2 separate regions of the Homo sapiens genome follow, and region 1 is reported to be linked to region 2. The links are microRNA targets in miRTarBase. Many come from high-throughput screens and were not tested one by one. Region 2 holds a microRNA gene; the other region holds the end of a gene's coding sequence.
The links. Region 2 holds the annotated microRNA hsa-miR-3615 (UCUCUCGGCUCCUCGCGGCUC, at 3,669-3,689, opposite strand). A microRNA usually pairs through its seed, bases 2 to 8, with sites in the 3' UTR of a target mRNA and lowers its output. Matches are read on the target gene's strand: a 7mer-m8 pairs with bases 2 to 8, a 7mer-A1 pairs with bases 2 to 7 and ends in A, and an 8mer does both.

Region 1 (5,000 bases), not on the chromosome of region 2:
AAATGTGTACTGCATATGCATCTTATATGTATTGATATTTTATATTAAACGTCTCCATCTTATCCTTATATTGGTGTTCTTAAAATTCTTAATGCGCTTTTTTTTTTTTTTTTTTTTTTTTTTTTTTAAAGGAACCTTAGTCATTTCTGCTTTATATTTTGAGCTATCAGCATTTGGGACCAATTCAGGTTACATTTTCCTTTTTCTGTCCTTTTTTAAATTGAAAATATTTTAGATCTAAAAAATCTTATTAAAATGTTATAGCAATAGTATTAATAAGATCTTGCTAAATAGAAAAGAACCCGTAATCCTGCCACCCTAACCTAATCAGCATTTTAAATTTTGCATACTTCCTTCAGGTCCTTTTTCTAAATAATTTTTTTATTACTTGGGTCTTTAAAAATATTTGAACTCACCTTTTTATGGTAGGGCTCAGGGTGAATAACTTCTGTGTTTCTTTTCTAGTCTGCGAAACTTGTATCTGTTTTAAAGAAGGCACTTGAAATTACAAAGTAAGTATGAAGACTTCTCAGATAGCTTTTTGTGAGTAAAACGGAACTGCTGTCCAGACGTTCTCAACTCCCTAGCTCCCATTTCAAGGAGTGGGAAAGGGTGGGTGTGGGATTTTCTTTCAGCTTCAGTTGTGGGGCAGCTGAGATTCTGCAAAGAAGCTTCCCTTTAAAAAAATTTTAGTTTTCCCTGTGCTCCCTCCTGAGGATAGGTTTTCCCTTGACATCCTAATAAGTTTAACTTACTTCTTTCCTATTCTATTCACAGAGCAAGTCATGTGACCCCTCAGCCAGAAGATAGTTGGATCCCTTTACTTATTAATGCCATTGATCATTGCATGAATAGAATCAAGGAGCTCACTCAGAGTGAACTTGAATTATGACTTTTCAGGCTCATTTGTACTCTCTTCCCCTCTCATCGTCATGGTCAGGCTCTGATACCTGCTTTTAAAATGGAGCTAGAATGCTTGCTGGATTGAAAGGGAGTGCCTATCTATATTTAGCAAGAGACACTATTACCAAAGATTGTTGGTTAGGCCAGATTGACACCTATTTATAAACCATATGCGTATATTTTTCTGTGCTATATATGAAAAATAATTGCATGATTTCTCATTCCTGAGTCATTTCTCAGAGATTCCTAGGAAAGCTGCCTTATTCTCTTTTTGCAGTAAAGTATGTTGTTTTCATTGTAAAGATGTTGATGGTCTCAATAAAATGCTAACTTGCCAGTGATTAAATGAGTGCCCTTCCAAAGTTTCTTTTTACCAGAAATACAGTGGATTGAGACTAGAACATTGCTTTCATTTGGGTTTGTAGGTTTAAAAATCTGATTCTAATCAGAAGTATATTTAGAACAAAACACTTTATTTATAAAAGATGACTCCAAAATTCATCTTAGTATTTCACCATGTTATATATTATTATCAGCAAGTCCTTCTGAATATTATCACAGATTACTCCATGTCTCTAAAATATATTGGCATTGAGCTCATTTGTTAGGTTTGCCCACCTTATTGAACAGATTTATTTTCCTTATACATACTTGTGTTGTCCTTGGTTACGTGTGTCCCCAAATGTAAATACCAAATTTTTATAAATCAAAAATTTTTTAGTGTGTAAGAGATTTTATGTAATTTTAAGGGCCTTTTCAGTTCATCCTTTTGCAAAACCATCACCACTTAATTATACTTTTGCATCAGTCTAGAAGACTGCATATTGGAAAGCAGTGTAAATCTATAATGATGTATATTCTGGTGAGCTGAATAGGGCATTATGCATGTCCTACAGGTCTCCGCCACCTCTCATGCCCATCATCTTCCTTTTGTAGGTGTAATTCATAACATATGCCTTTCTGCTGTCTTTAGGTATAATCAGCAACAGCAGTCATTCTTTGAGTGACTAATGTATACTTGGGGTTGGGGTTGAAATTCCTTAAGCCAAATGAGTTTTAGCTTACTGTTTTGAAGTGCCATTTTGTATTGTTAACAAGTGTCATGAAGGGAAGGAACTAAAATCAAACTGACAGAGTGTCAAGGCAACAAAATAACATAAACAAAATAATAACATTGTACAACAGTCTAGTTCTTTTATCCTTTCATATAGAGCCTATTTTTTATATACTTTTATATTTCTCTACTGGACCAAATTCATGTTATTAACATCAGACTTTAATTGTGGGATACTTAATGAATATAGAACTCTAATATAAAGACTTACCTCTAGCTGAATTATTCTCTCAGGTCCTGTATTGTATAACTTCGTTCAGTCATGTTTGGATCTTTAAGGATAATGATCAGGGAAAGCACTGATCAATGTAATTTTTTTTTTTTTTTTTTTTTTTTTGAGATGGAGTCTTGCTCTGTCCCCCAAGCTGGAGTGCAGTGGCACACTCTCGGCTCACTGCAACCTCCGCCTCCCAGGTTCTCAAGCAATTCTCTGGCTTCAGCCTCTCAAGTAGCTGGGACTACAGATGCACACCACCATGTCCAGCTAATTTTTGTATTTTTAGTAGAGATGGGGTTTCACCATGTTGGCCAGGCTGGTCTCAAACTCCTGACCTCAGGTGATCTGCCCACGTCAGCCTCCCAAAGTGCTGGGATTACAGATGTGAGCCACCGAGCCCAGCTTGATCAATGTAATTTTAAGATTACCTAAAAATTCCATTTTGGGATAATATCCCACTTCATCAGAAATATTAGAATGATTTAAGTGTTAGGTCCTTTCCCTTATCTGTAAGTTAATGAATGTATTAATGAGCAGTAAAATGGTTGCAAAAAACCTGAACCTGAACAATCTGAATGTACTCCTTAAAGGTATCTGAGCACCTTTTCAACCTGAATGACTACTCATTTATCTGATAAAGTGATGTAGTTTGGATATTCAACCCTGCAAACCTCATGCTGAAATTGGATTCCCAGTGTTGGAGGTGGGGCCTAATGGGAGGTGTTTGGATCCCTCATGAATGGCTTCGTTCCATTGGTGGGGTAATGAGTAAGTTCTCGCTCTATATGTCCCTCCCCCACCCCAGAGCTGGCTGTTAAAACGAGGCTGGCACCTGGCACTTACCCCTACCCCTCAACCCATTCTTGCCCTGTGATCTCTGCTCACGTTGCCTCCCTTCATCTTCCTGCATAAGTGGAAGCAGCCTGAAGCCCTCACTGTTTCTTGTACAGCCTGCAGAGCCGTGAGCCAAATAAAGCTCTTTTCTTTTAAACTACCCAGCCTCAGTTATTCCTTTATAGCAACACAAACACTGAGACGCAAAGTTTCTCTTCCTAGCACATGTTTGGTTTAGATTGTAGAACAAGGGTTGGCAGGAGAGTGGTGATAGAGCTGGAAGTTTAAGCTGATAGTTCAGGGGCTACCACGGTGACGCTTTTATAGTTGGTTAGGTTCTGGAACATGTTGCAGTCCACTTCCACAGTGAGTCTCTGGAGCCCCACATGTGTTGGCGTGAACTGGAACTTGGCACACATGGTGTTTTCAGGCCACACTGAACGGAATCTGAAATAAAGGAAAAGGCAGGTGCTAGTTCTGTCCCAGGTTCATTGCTCTGCTGGTCCCAGTGACTTTGATCCTTCCTTGCTTGAAGAGGTGGACCATGCAGAAATAAACATCTAAGTACCTTGCTATTAAAATGGAAGTGTTTATAAAGGAATAGAAGACAGGAGCCACCCAATGCTGAGCAACTGCATGGTTGAGAAGAGGTACATCCTAAGGGCTTCCAAGCTACATCTGTTGTTCCTTTTGTCATCTGTGACTTCCTTCTGGTTCAATTCCTGGTAATTGTATTGGAGTTTGTTTGGAAGAGTGATATGGTTTGGCTGTGTCCCCACCCAAATCTCAACTTGAATTCTATCTCCCAGAATTCCCATGAGTTGTGGAAGGGACCCAGGGGGAGGTAATTGAATCATGGGGGCTGGTCTTTCCTGTGCTATTCTCGTGATAGTGAATAAGTCTCAGGAGACCTGATGGGCTTATCAGAGGTTTCTGCTTTTGCTTCTTCCTCATTTTCTCTTGCCACCACCCTGTTAGAAGTGCCTTTGCCTCCTGCCATGATTCTGAGGCCTCCCCAGCCATGTGGAACTGTAAGTCCAATTAAACCTCTTTTTCTTCCCAGTCTCAGGTATGTCTTTATCAGCAGCGTGAAAACAAACAATACAGTAAATTGGTATGAGTAGAGTGGGGCATGGCTGAAAAGATACCCGAAAATGTGGAAGTGACTTTGGAACTGGGTAACAGGCAGAGATTGGAGCAGCTTGAAGTGCTCAGAAGAAGATGAAAATGTGGGAAAGCTTGGAACTTCCTAGAGACTTGTCGCATAGCTTTGCCGAAAATGCTGATAGCAATATGGACAATAAAATCCAGGCTGAGGTGGTCTCAGATAGAGATGAGGAACTTGTTAGGAACTGGAGCAAAGGTGACTCTTATGTTTTAGCAAAGAGACTGGTGGCATTTTGACCCTGCCCTAGAGATTTGTGGAACTTTGAACTTGAGAAAGATGATTTAGGGTATCTGGTGGAAGAAATTTCTAAGTAGCAAAGCATTCAAGAGGTGACTTGGGTGCTGTCAAAGGCATTCAGTTTTATAAAGGAAGCAGAGCGTAAAAGTTTGGAAAATTTGCAGCCTGACTATGCAATAGAAAAGAAAAACCCATTTTCTAGGGAAAAATTCAAGCTGGCTGCAGAAATTTGCATAAGTAACAAGGAGCCTAATGTTAAACCTGAAGATCAAGGGGGAAATGTCTCCAGGCCATGTCAGAGAACTTCATGGCAGCCCCTCCCATCACAGGCCCGGAGGCTCAGGAGGAAAAAGTGGTTTAGTGGGCCAGGCCCAGGGTTCCTGTGTTGTATGCAGCCTAAGGACTTGGTGCCCTGTGTCCCAGCCACTCCAGCCATGGCTGAAAGGGGCCAACATACCGCTTGGGCTGTGGCTTCAGAGGGTGGAAGCCGCAAGCCTTGGCAGCTTCCAAATGGTGTTGAGCCTATG
Region 2 (5,517 bases):
CAGTGGTGAGAACAGGCTGCCAGATGGAGAAGGGCCATGGAACAGCATATAACTCTTAAAAAAAAAAAAGAAAAAATTTAATAGAGACAGGGTCTTGTCATGTTGCCTAGGCTGGTCTCAAACTCCTGGGCTCAGGCGATCCTCCCACTTTGGCCTCCCAAAGTGCTGGGATTACAGGTGTGAGCCACCACACCTGGCCACAACGTATCATTCTTAACCCACAGTGACCATCGATCAGGCACTGACTGTGTGCCAGGCTTGGCCACAGTGGCATTTGCCCAACTAGGCAGGCTGACCCAGCGCTAGCTGCCCCATGATAGGTGTGCAATGATCACTATGAAATATGTATTCATTCCAATACCAACTGCAAAGGCTGGCTGAGCCTGGACTCAGTGCCAGGCACTGAGCTACGTGCTTTACACACAGCCTCATGCAATTCCGAGGTAGCTGCCATAACCCCCAACTTACACAAGAGGAAATGGAGGCTTACAGAGGTGAGGTAACTTGGCTTCGCACAGCCTGGCTAGTACAGCTGAGCTGGCTCGGCTCTGCCCGGCCGGCACTCTGAACCCAGACTCAAGGGTTTAGGCCTCATCCTGTGACTGGTGGTGAATGGGGGGAGGAGGGCTTTAAGCAGGGGAACAGCAGGGCGGGTCTTGCTGCTCCTCTCTCCCCACGGGGCAGGCGGGGAAGGCCATCCACAAAGCAAAGCCGGTGGGCAGAGCTGGAGAGCCACTTCCACCTCCTTAGGCCTAGACTCCCCAGCGGGGATGGCCAGTGTTACAGGCACCCCTCAGCCTCTGCCCTGAGTGGTTCTGGACACAGCTGGTCTTCCCAGCCAGAGGCCACCCAGCCAACCACTCTCTGCGCCACACTTTTCCACTGATATCATCACTTAGTAAGTGGAGGGCTAATGAAGACAAGGGAACAGCCCCACCTTGCACACAAATTCAGACTAAAACGAATTGGCAAACCTCCATTTGATGCTTTATGTAGGAAACGGGTGTGTTTTAGAAAAACGAACTCTTACAATGTCTGTTAACATTTTTTCTAATAACCACATGGGTGTCTGTATGCTCAACACACAGGATTGAGAGGAGAGGATTTTCTGCTAGAAGGACTCAATGGTGTTGACTAGGAGTCAGTTTAGAGGAGCTGGGATTCAAACGCCAGGCATGAAGGAGTGCAGTTCAGCATTTAGTAAGGGGCTCAAGTGCTTCACGTCATTTCTATAATTCTAGAGAAGGCAGGCATCACATCGCCCAATGCCTCCATCTCACAGATGGGAGAACCAGAACTCAGAAGTCCTGGGACTTGGCTGGTGATGGTGTCCCCAGGATTTGCTGGTGGCTCTCCTCTCATCTCCTGGCCTAACAAAGTACACACAAATGTAGGTGTCCCTCCAAAACATGCAGGAATCTGAGTCTGTGCTCACCCAGGAAGCTCAAAGCTGCTGCCTTTGCGCACGTGTGCTATGCCAGGCCTCCACGTTCGCCTCCCAGGCCCTCTGGCACCCAGCAGCATAACCAAAAGGGCAAAGGGAGGAGCTGAACGAGACTGCAACTTGTGGGGGGTGGGGGTGGGTGGGTATTTGTGTGGGTGCCAAAGTCCAAAAAAAAAAAAAAAAAAGAATGTCAAATCGATCGATGGACTCAGCACAAAGTTCACACTGGATTTCTGCCTGGGACTGGAGATCATCGGCCCCAACTCCCTGGCATCAACCTCCTTGCTCCGGGTGCTCAGATCCCTTCCCCCTCCCCTTGCCAATGCCAGCTTGGCAGGGGCAGGAAGTGGGAGCCTGGTGGCCCTGGCATTCCCAGCACCCAGCTCTGGCTGGACAGGGCTTCTGGTGACCTCACTTCCACCAAACCAGTTGATCCTCTAGGGCTTTGCCTTCTACCTTAATGCCGAACTGTGCCCTTTCTCTGTCCAGGAGGCTCCTCGTAGCCCCACGGACACTCCCATCAGACACTGCCACCAGGGAGAGCTGGTGGTGCAAGCTGAAGGGGTCCTGGGAGGCTCACGCCCTGCCCTACACAATGCACCACTCCACTCTCTGGGGACAGGAGGCTCAGCACAACTCCTATTTTGCCAGCTGCCCCTCTTGCAGCTGATCCAAACTGGGATCCCATGGGCAAACACCAAACATGGGCAAAAAGCAACCGGCCTGCTGGCTGTGTGGGCACCAGAGTGACCATGGCAAGGCCAGGGCAAGACCACCGGCTCACCGTGAGCTCCGCTGGCGCACACAGGGCCGTGAGCCCCAGGAGCTCTCTCTCCTCCCCATGGCCATCTTTTTCTTCTTCCAAGGTCTTTCCCCTTCCCTCCCAGATACAGTTCTAGGCGCTTACTCTTCACATTCCTGAGAATCGTAAATCCTCTGAGGTGGCAGAACCACCACTCCGAGATGCCTTGGCTCCTCCTCCCTGCCAGGCAACCCCCACACCGCCCTGAGATGGTGGGGCTTCCTCTCCCTTAGAAGTCACACAGGACTCCGGGAGGATGAAGTCCAGCAGGACTGAAGTTCAGGACACACACCGGCGGGCTGCGGAGAGGGCCTCCTCGCGCCGGGGCTCCACACAGGAGGAGTAATGCTATTCCTCTAGCTTTTGAAGTAGGAGTGGCGGGCGAAGCTGGCACCTCTGGGGCGGAGAGCCCTTTCTCCCCGGCCCATCTGCGGACTGGGGTGAACGAGGAGAGGGCACCAGGGAAGGAGCAGGATTGGGGGATTCCGAGGAACGGGAGCAGACACCCACAGACCCGAGGGAAGGGGGCTGGGTTCCCCTGCGCCGCCCTCCCAAAGGCCAGGGAACAAGAGGTGCAGGCGGCAAAGGCGCTCAAGCTCCCAGCACAGCCTGGGAAGGAGAGGAGGTCGCGGGACGCAGCCCCAGGCCTGCCTAGGATGTGTCAGGGCGCCTGGTCGGCGGGCGGAAGCGGTCTCCCCCTCGCAGCTCGAGTTTCAGAAAAACGACGGCGGGCGCGGGGCTGGACGGCCGGGGCACCTGGGTCTCTCCGGATCCTCCTCCCACTCCATGCCAGCCTGCGCGGCTTGGGCCCCGCTTACCTGCTCCGGGTGGCTCTTGTCGGCCTCGCGAGGCTCATTTTCGTTGCCAGCCCCCTGCACCTCGGCGGCGGCCGGCGGCTCGGCCTGCCCCGGCGCTTCCTGGGCGCGCAGCAGCTCCTCTCGGACCTGGACGCCGAGCTTCTGCAGCTGCTCGTCCGTCTCGGGGTCGACCACCAGCAGGCGCACGGCGTTGAGTGCGGCGCGGATGCGGCTCACCACCTGCTGGTGGGTCTCCTTCTCCACGTTTTCGCCGTTCACCTCCACCAGCCGGTCCCCCGCCAGCAGCCCCGCCTTCTCGGCCGGCGAGCCGGGCTCCACCAGCCGGATGTACTGGCCCAACTTGCCCTTCTCCCCGTGCAGGTGGAAGCCGTAGCCGTTCGGACCCTTCTCCAGGCAGCAGAGCCGGGGCAGGGGCGCCCCGGCCGCTGCGTCCGCGCTCATCTCGCCCTGCGACGGGTCAGCGGCGCGACTTGGGGTTCCGATGGGGACGGGACGGGACGGCCCAGCCCTTCTTCCCGTCCAGCGAACCGGGAGCGCAGCAGAGAAGCCCTGAGCCGCCGGACGGGCCAAGCAAGCAGGTGTCCCAGGAACCGTCGGCCGCCGCGAGCCGCGAGGAGCCGAGAGAGGACCACAGACCAATCCCCGCCCCGCGCGGCGTCTGAGCGTCCCAGAGTCCGCCCCGGCTCCTTACCCCGGGGGCGGGGCCGCGCTGAGGGTGGGGACCTCCGCGGGCCAATAGGGGGCTGCAGGCCTGGGCGCTCCGGCCGGGTGAACGGCGCCGGCCATTGGGAACGCGCGGGGCGGGGCCTGCGCTCGGCGCGGCGCCCCGCGGCGGGCGAAGACTAGCGCTCAGGAAGTGGAAGTGTTTGTTACCGAGCGGCCGGCGCTGGGGTGGCAGGGGCGGGGCTCGCCGAATTCCCGGTTCTGGGCGGGTGGGCCCGCCGGCTCCGGCCTGGTTTCCCCTACCTGTGGCGGGGAGTGAGGAAAGCCGGCCCTCGGGTAAAGGACCCTAACTTTTTTTTTTTTTTTTGAGACGGAGTCTCGCTCTGTCGCCCAGGCTGGACTGCCGTGGCGCGATCTCGGATCACTGCAACCTCCGCCTCCCGGGTTCAAGCGATTCCCCTGCCTCAGCCTCCCGAGCAGCTGGGGTTACAGGCGCGCACCACCACGCCCCGCTAATTTTTGTATTTTTAGTAGAGACGAAATTTCGCCATGTTGGCCAGGATGGTTTCAAACTCCTGACCTCAGGTGATCCGCCCTGGGATTACAGACGTGAGCCACCGCACCTGGCCAACGTTTTAACAGCCTTTAGCCAAAGCCTGGGTGCAGCTCCAGTTGAGAGGGAGCGGCTGTTGCCGGGGCAACTGCTCCCGCTCGGGGCAGCGAGGGCCGGTCAGTCTCGAGAATTAAGACGGAGGGCCTCCTCGGACCCTACAGAGTTGTTTGAATAACATTTTTCCGTTTGTGGGAACCCTAACCCTAATCCACTTTGTGCTGTCCCAGGACTCGCATAGAGGAGTGCAGGTTCTGATCCCTGCTGGGAAGGTGAGGGCTCCGCGGAGAGCCTGGGACCTCGAGGGGCAGCCCGCTGAAGACAGGCCATCTAGGGCAATAGCGTGGGCTTTGGCAGCAGCGTTTGGCTAGGGAGGTGGGGTGGGGAGAGGCAGGACAGACTCAGGTAATCAACCTCTGGGTACACGCCACAGGGAAAGGAGCCTTGGTTTTTTTTTTTTTTTTCCAACAGAAAAATGATTAGGACTGTAAAGCCTTCTAGCTCCCTCTTGCCAAAGAGAGGCTGGTCACAGAGGCGGGAGACAGTCTGTTGAGCGGGGAGCTGACCATCTGAGGACAGACACTGAGGAAGGAGGATGGAATGATTTTGGCAGTGAATGACAATTCCTTCAACAAGACCCCCCCCCCCCACTCACTTCAAAGAAACAGTGGACAGGATGTGCTTTCCAAAATACTGCAGTTTAATTCTGAAAAACTCAAATGCAAGAGGCCCAGAGCTGTCTATGGGATTGGATCTCCTGCAACCTGCCTTGGGCCCCAGAAGAGACTGGCAATGTCAGCCTCCTCCCTGCTCTGCCTGAGGGAGGCCACGGAGAACTTCCTTATCGGGCCCAAACTGGAGCCGCTGACTGCTCAGAGCAAGATTTCTGCCTTGAAAGCAAATGCAGTAGCCTCAGAAATGTGCAGCGCATACTTCTTCCTCCCCCTCTCCCCCTCCAGGCCGGCAGAGCTGCAGTAAAGATGCCTGCAGGTCATGACCTCATGTTTCCTGTCCACTTCCCATGGCAGGGATCGGAGCTTTGGGAGATATGTGACCAAGGAGGACACATGAACTTGCTACCCCTCTCTCTACCCCAGACATACCCACATGACTTTGTTTTACTCATATTGCATTGGTTTAACTCGGAAATGGGTGACCTCCCACCACCTAACCTGACTCA

Region 1: the mRNA of CCNDBP1 is a reported target of hsa-miR-3615. The part of its 3' UTR that is shown has no 7-base or 8-base seed match.

What each region holds. Positions count from the first base shown.
Region 1 is chr15:43,193,950-43,198,949 of GRCh38, forward strand. CCNDBP1 (cyclin D1 binding protein 1) reads left to right here. Exons shown (of 11, transcript NM_012142.5): 10 at 466-512; 11 at 778-3,228. The coding sequence ends at 892. EPB42 (erythrocyte membrane protein band 4.2) reads right to left here. Exons shown (of 13, transcript NM_001114134.2): 13 at 3,278-3,515. The coding sequence ends at 3,353. Among named protein-coding and RNA genes, the nearest start is that of CCNDBP1, 11 kb to the left of the region's middle.
Region 2 is chr17:74,746,835-74,752,351 of GRCh38, reverse strand. MIR3615 (microRNA 3615) reads right to left here and starts at 3,739; the gene lies at 3,653-3,739. RAB37 (RAB37, member RAS oncogene family) reads right to left here. Exons shown (of 9, transcript NM_001006638.3): 9 at 5,017-5,517. NHERF1 (NHERF family PDZ scaffold protein 1) reads right to left here and starts at 3,724. Exons shown (of 6, transcript NM_004252.5): 1 at 3,065-3,724. The coding sequence starts at 3,505. It overlaps SLC9A3R1-AS1 (SLC9A3R1 antisense RNA 1), which reads left to right and starts at 2,485. Exons shown (of 3, transcript NR_187307.1): 1 at 2,485-3,289; 2 at 3,425-3,779; 3 at 4,809-5,517. RefSeq lists enhancers at 628-1,169, 2,661-3,286, 4,575-5,170 and a silencer at 3,491-4,180.